Linked DNA regions of Homo sapiens. The protein of the gene in region 2 purifies or fractionates together with the protein of the main gene of each other region. This does not show direct contact. Each region holds a gene or a part of one and is shown on either strand. Other genes may lie near its edges.

Region 1 (3,651 bases), on a different chromosome or scaffold from region 2:
TAAAAGGAAAAAAGTCACAGTGCTTGCCTGCAACCACACAAAAATATATCTGCACAGGAATTCTTTAAAAAGTCAGTCTTTTGAGTGAGTGAATCACTTTTGAGATTGCTGCCCAATTTAATAGGAATGCGTTACTGCTTCCGTTAAAAGAGTTAATCCTCGGGGTGCAGCCGCAGCTGCGGCCTCAGCACAGCCACAATGCTCCCAGCCGCGCCGCAGACAATCGTGGCCCGCCGCCCCTCTACGGGCTCCCCACTCACTCAACTCCCTTCCCTTCTAAACAAAAATAAGAAGACAAATATTTAGAAGTTGAAGCAATTATAGCCCAGTGGGGAGACAGACAAAAAGGAATGAGGAAGTCTCTGCTCTAAGTCTATTTTGGCAACGATCTCATTAAAATCTGGTCAAAAACACCCACGTGCCTGGCTCCCAGTCTGGCTGCGGAGGAGCAGGACTCCACCCTCTGCGCTCTCCTCCTCCACGAGAAACTTTTACCTTTCTCCAGCTTCTGGGAATCCGGGCAAGGAAGACATCTGGTTGCATCCGCAGAGGCGTGGGAGGGAGGCGGGCCCAGCCTGGCGGTGCTGCGCGGGGTCACAGACTCTCTGGGCCCTGGCCCCGGCCCGGGGGATGGTGCGGCCCCTGCTGCCATGGGCTCCAGCTGCACGGCAGGCGGCCTTTGGCTGCCATCCAGGCGCGGCCTCTTTTTCGCAGGGCATTCTCCAGGCTCTGAGCAGGCCGAGGGCTCAGGGGCTGGGGGCGCAGTGAGGCTGCCCAACGGCAGACCGGGGTCGTGTCCCTCAGCGTTGGCACAGGGATCGTCCTCCCTGACCCCGGAGGGCAAGGACGGGGCTGCCCAGCTGCCTCCTTTGCTCCCCATGTCTCTCTCCGTGTCGTCCTCTGAAAGGGAAGATCCATTCAGGCACAAGCTAGCCTTCTGCGCTGAGTTTCCTCCCCTCTTACTTGCAAGAGTCCAATTTTTGTGGTGGATTCTGGACCCACTCTCATCTTGGGCACCACCTCCAGCTGGGAGGACCAACGGGCCTCTTGGGTTTTCACTTTTCCTGAGCCCCTTCTTGTGGTCCACTTTGCACTCGGGGTCCTTTTCACAAGTGAACGAACTTGACAGGCTTTGTTGCACACATGGCCTCCTCCTGTGAGGTCTGGAACTGCCCAACACGTCTCCGCGGGGAAGAGATGAGGAGTTCGAATCACAGGGCGAGGAGACATGCTCCATGGGCTTCCCTCGCAGAGACCGGTCAGCTCTACCTGTCCCTGCAGAGCTTTCTTGACTCCAAATCGAGCCCTCGCTCAGAACGTCCAGAGCCACGCGAAGCGACCGTCTGTAGGCCAGTTCTTCCAGGGGTGCCGCAGGAACCTCATTCTGTGAGGCTGCAAGGACCGAACATACACAATGCCGGTTACGTTCACTGCACAGGCACTGCGGTCACGGCATCGCTTTAGAAGCTCGCTTGTCTCATTCTGACGGCTAGTTTCATACCTAAATCACTGAAGGGGAGGACTAACATTTCTCACCTACATTTTCCCAAAAAGGAGACGAGGCTACAGAACGACAGCTATTCATTCCGGGATTCGAGGCTTCATTTTTTTAAAAACCAAATTTATTGACCTTAACCTGATTGGCTAAAAAGATAAATTCCTCCAAGTTACAAAACAATACCGTGAGCAAAATGTATTCAAATGTTTTGCAAATCCTCTCTCAGCCTTACAATTTCAAATTCAATCAGGGTCAATAAAAACCAATGCCAACTAAATAAAGAACTCTGCTGGCAACGTATTCTTGGTTGGTGCAGGGGTTGGTGGTAGCAAGGAAAAGGAGATTTAAAAGACTCATTGTGGGCTGGTAAATTTTCAATACTTCTTTGCAAGGGCATTTCAAAGCCAGCAAAGAGCATCGTGGGCCTCTGGTTTCCAGCCCAACCTCCCTGCTGCAGCACTTTTATTTATTCATTCCGACATATAGATACGGCGCTATTTATTTGAACAAGATGATGGATGTAATATCACAACTCAGCGGGCATAATGCCTCAATCAGAACAGTATTCTCCCCTTTGAATATTAAAGGCGCCCACAAACAACCAGCCCCCCAACACAATCTGCGCCAACAAGGACGACGCCATCCAAGATGATGGTCAGCCCGGCCTAAGTTATGCAGAGATGGATCCTGCTTTAAACAAGAGCTGTTTTTCGGAAGACACAGGAAAATAGACCTGATTTTATAAACATCATTGGAAGGAATTCCGGTCCATCTTTTCACAAGAGAAACAATTATTTGCAAATGGGATAAACAGTTCCACTTTGAGAAGGAAGGCTGGCAGGTTTGGGTTTGCACAACTGTGGCTAGGGGGCAGGCAGTCACCAGTGCTCCTCACTTGTCATGTATGTGCATGACCAGTCCCCGGCTGGACTCAGGCAAAGCTTTTCTCACCCACAGTGTGCAAAGGAGGTGGGTGCTAAACTGAAGGCCTGGGAGAAAGCGCACCCGGATGGATGGGAAGCCGAGAGCTCCACTTCCGACCTGCCTCGTGCCCCCCATGACAGTGCCTCAAACAATGGGTGCCACCAACCCCAGTGCCAGGCCACCCGTTCTCTCCCTTGGGCTCTGCTCTGGAATTTTAAACACACAACCAACTGCTTCTCAAACCTTGGGCTGAGACCAGACTGGCCAGGCAGCGACAGTACCACAGCAAATCTTACTATAGGAAGAGGAAAGGAAAAAGGAGGACCTCCCCCCTTATGGCAGCAAAGTCCTTCCTCGTCTTGTGTACTGGAGGCCACGGGGGTACGAGATGACCTTGATGCTCACCACTGACCATTCTGGGCGTCAAGAATAGGAGTGGTTCTAGGGGCAAATTCTGGAAAGGTTTAAGAAAGCGGATCCATTTTTCCTTCTCCTTCAGCTCAGGGGATTCGCGTTCCCTTGTATGAAGAAAAACATGGTGAACAGGGTGAATTTTTACCCAGAAAGCTGAGCCTTCACATTCTCCCAAATGACCTCTTATTTTATGAAAACCTAGTGGCCACTTAAAAATACGCTCTTACCTAACGAGGAAGCAATGGCTTCAATTTGAGACTTCTCTAGGATCTCAACTTCAGTGCTTTTCACCTTAATTCTGCAGAGACAAAATCGACGTTACACACCACCAGCCAACGCCGCCAAGACATTTTCAAACATGTTTTCCTTTAGATAACAAAAGAATTATTTTCATTTTCCTCCTCAACCTTCCACTTAAACCAAAAGTCACAGCCAACTAGGAATTCATCTGCCTGAGGTTACAGGCAGCAAGAACCCTGGTGAATGGTTTTTTTTTTTTTTTCCTTTTAAGACAGAAAAGGTTGGCTGGATTTAAAAGCAAAAATGAATTCAAATTGTGACTTTTATGAAGCAAATCCTACTTTCAACTGCACAAATCACTCCTTTGTTAGATTTTCAGAGTAGATGGTAATGTCACTAAAAGCTGTTTACAGCCCAGCAGGTGTGTTTTGGTTTAAAAGGATGTGCTTTCCTTTTAAACTCGAGTATTCAATTACCTTCCCAGCCGCAGGGAAAGTGTGAGCTAGGGACCAAGCGAGCTTCAGAGGCAGCTCTGAAGATGCAGGCAGGAGGGAGTGGGGCAGGGGGAGCTCCAC
Region 2 (3,651 bases):
ACTGGTATTTATCTTTGATATAATACTTGCCAGACTACATGAGAAAGATCTATTTAAAATTTGGATGTAGGTATTTAGGGGGAGTAAAGATGAATGAACAAAATTGATCAGTGGCTCTCAAATCAGGGTGCTTTTCTCCCCAGGGAATATTTGGCAATGTCTGAAGATGTTTTTGGTTGTCTTAACTAGGGGAATGCTACTGGCATCTAGTGGGTAGAAGCCAGGGATGTTGTTAAATATCCTACTCTGCACAGGGCAACCCCCTCACAACAAATAATTATCCAACCCAAAATGTTATTTGTGCTGACACTGAGAAAACCTGAACTACATTTTAGAATCTCCCTTCTTCAAAATCTAATAAAACAAAAAATAAAAACAAAAAATAAAACAAAAAGGCCAACATTTTATTAGCAGCAACCAAATATAAAAGGGCCTGCCATAAATTTTGAAGACTGATAGTCAAAATAAGAAACAAAGTTATATGTGATTGATGGTCATTCCCAACTCTACCCCTACCTCCAATAAGAGGTTGTAGGGAAATAGTTTACAAAATCCTAAACACTTACCAGAAATACACTCCAAAATGACAAAAAGTAGAGCCGAGGAATGAATAAGCAACACAAGGAAAAGTCAACAAAAAAATTTCAAGAGTGAGTTTTAACCATCTCTTTGCTTTGGGAAGGAGAAGGTCAGGTCACATTCTAGGGCTCAGAACAAAGAGAAATGAGAGCTCTGAGGTCGAATGATGTCCCCATACAAGGCAAAGGAATTTTATTCATAAGCAGTTGGGCAGACCCAAGAGTGAAATACTTGGTACTTCAAGAGAGCAGAGCCTAAAAGCCACATTGCCCCATTTGGCTCTCTGAATCACCACTTTTCCCTTCTCTTTCCCTCCACTCCAACAATATACAGCTTTCAAACTAGGGCTCAGGAGAAAAACAAACTTGGGTAAGGAGAGTGGAGTATTAAAAATATTTCCCATCAGCACCACATAGAAGTTCTCCCACATCAAGAAGAAACATGTATGCATATGTATTACAGCCTGACAAAAAGAAACACGCACATACAGGGAATAAAAAGCAAGAAAGAACACAAAATGAAGAAATGAATAGGGCACACAAGTGGCAAAGAACCCATTCTGGAAGGATACATAACCCAATAAAAACTAAAGAAAATTCTCAACAACTTCATCATAATGAAGAACTTGAAAACAATACAACCTTATAATAAACAAGCTCAAAAGCAAGAAGAAGCAGAATAAGATGAAAATGCGTTTGTAGCGCTAAAGAAACTTAGAGCCTATATAACACAATGACTTAACCAATTAATTCATTTAAAATATCAAAAACAGGACAGACACTGGAGAAAACAGAATTATTGACAAAAAGAAAGGCTTCAGATGATCACAGTAAATGCAAAGGTAAAAGACAAATCAAAGCAATTAGAATACATACGAACAACAAAAGAAAATTCAGTATTAAAAAAACTGGTGTCATGAAGTAGAGGATCTAATAATTTGACCAAAAAAAAGTATTCATGGTAATAAACAAGGAAAATGTTCTTAGAAGAACTAAGGGCATACTATAATTTAGGGAAAAATGATTATAAGTGACACTTAGATATACCTTGTTTATATTACTGAATTTCAAAAATAAAGAAGAAAACTCTCAGGCATTTTAGATTAAAAAAAAAAATTGCCTTCAAGGAGGTAGGGAGAAAAATCAGACTTTTCTACAGTAACACTAGATGTCCCAAAATAATAAAACAGGGACCACAAAGTTCTAATGAAAGTGTTCCCAAACAAGTTATTTTTCAGGAACGAAAGCAATAGACAGACATTCTCAAGCATTAAAGAAAACAGCAAGCATTGAAACTCAGAGACTATAATACTCACAAATTCTTCCTAATAAAAAGAGAAAACATTGGACAAAGAAATCCAGCCAATCAAACACTAGGAGATTATGGAACAACATTTACAAAGTTGAGGGGGAATAAAGTGTGACTGATAAATTTTATACCTAGCCAAGTAATCCTTCAAGTAATATAAAAACAAAAGACAAATATTTTGAATCAATGAAGTGTATAAGAACCCAAAGAATGCATGCAGTACCTGTAACTTGAAAAGACTGCCTGACAATGAAATTCAATCAGGAGATGGACTAACTCGGGAATGGAGAAGCAACAGTACTGGTAATAAGCACCAAAACTATTAAAACATAGAACTAAAAGAATTATGACAGAACCATGACAACATAAAGAATATGATCAACATGAAACTAGGCCAATTAATATCCTACAATGGCCTGTAAGTGTTCAAGTGAAAGGAACAGTCACCTGTTTCTCACTTTAAATCAAGAGCTAGAAATGATTATGCTTAGTGAGGAAGTTATGTTGAAAGCCAAGATACGCCAAAAGCTAGGTCTCTTGAGCCAGTTAGCTAAGTTGTGAATGCAAAGGAAAAGTTCTTGAAGGAAATTAAAAGTGCTACTCCAGTAAACACACAAATGATAATAAAACAGCCTTATTGCTGATATGAAGTGGTCTGGATAGATGATCAAACAAGCCACAATGTTCCCTTAAGCCAAAGCCTAATTCAGAGCAACCCTAACTCTCTTCAGTTCTATGAAGGCTGAGAGAGGTGAGGAAGCTAGAGAAGAAAAGTTGGAAGGTAGCAGAGGTTGGTTCACAAGATTTAAAGAAAGAAGCCATCTCCATAACATAAAAGTGCAAGGGAAAGCAGCAAATGCTGATATAGAAGCTGTAGTAAACTACCTAGAAGATGTAGCTAACATCATTCATGAAAGTAGCTACACTAAGCAACAGACTTATTTTTTATTTATTTATTTATTTATTTTGAGATGGAGTCTCGCTCTGTCACCCAGGCTGGAGTGCAATGTGCAATCTCAGCTCACTGCCACCTCCGTCTCCCGGGTTCAAGCCATTCTCCTACCTCAGCCTCCCAAGTAACTGGGATTACAGGCTCCCACCACCAAGCCAGGCTAATTTTTGGTATTTTTAGCTGAGATGGGGTTTCACTATGTTGGCCAGGCTGGTCTTGAACTCCTGAACTCGTGAACTGCCCACCTCGGCCTCCCAAAGTGCTGAGATTACAGGCATGAGCCACCGAGCCCGGCCAGCAACAGATTTTTAATGGAGATGAAATGGCCTCCTTTTGGAAGAAGATGCCATTTAGGACTTTCATAGCTATAGAGAAGTCAATGCCTGGCTTCAAAGATTCAAAGGACAGGCTGACTCTCTTGTTAGAGGCTAAAGCAGCTGGTGACTTCAAGTTGAAGCCAATAATCATTTACTATCCTAAAAATTCTAGGGCCATTAAGAATTATGCTAAATCTCCTCTGCCTGTTTTCTATAAATAATAAAGCCTAGATGACAGCACATCTGTTTACAGCACGGTTTAGTTTAAGCCCACCATTGAGATCTACTGCTTAGAAAAGAAAAGATTCCTTCAAAATATTATTGCTCATTGACAACGCACCTGATCACCCAAGAGCTGTGATGGAGATGTACAAGATTAATGTTGTTTTCATGCCTGCTAACACAACATCCATTCTGCAGCCCACTGATCAAGGAGTAACTTTGACTTTTAAGTCTTATTTAAGAAATATATTTCATAAGGCTATAGCTACCATA

Evidence for each region. Proteins that work in one complex are often made in the same cells at the same time.
Region 1: the proteins of ZNG1A (region 2) and PWWP3A purify together in Homo sapiens (affinity purification with mass spectrometry; 2 studies listed by BioGRID and IntAct, with this or other methods). This does not show direct contact.

Annotation. Positions count from the first base shown.
Region 1 is NC_000019.10:1,357,877-1,361,527, reverse strand, and holds part of PWWP3A (PWWP domain-containing DNA repair factor 3A), read right to left. Parts: exon of another isoform or gene 3,553-3,651; intron 3,135-3,552; coding exon 3,064-3,134; intron 2,941-3,063; coding exon of another isoform or gene 2,918-2,940; exon of another isoform or gene 2,877-2,917; coding exon of another isoform or gene 2,824-2,876; exon of another isoform or gene 1,601-2,823; intron 1,393-1,600; coding exon 496-1,392; intron 1-495. UniProt on the Homo sapiens protein: Involved in the DNA damage response pathway by contributing to the maintenance of chromatin architecture.
Region 2 is NC_000009.12:165,417-169,067, forward strand, and holds part of ZNG1A (zinc-regulated GTPase metalloprotein activator 1A), read right to left. Parts: intron 1-3,651. UniProt on the Homo sapiens protein: Zinc chaperone that directly transfers zinc cofactor to target metalloproteins, thereby activating them.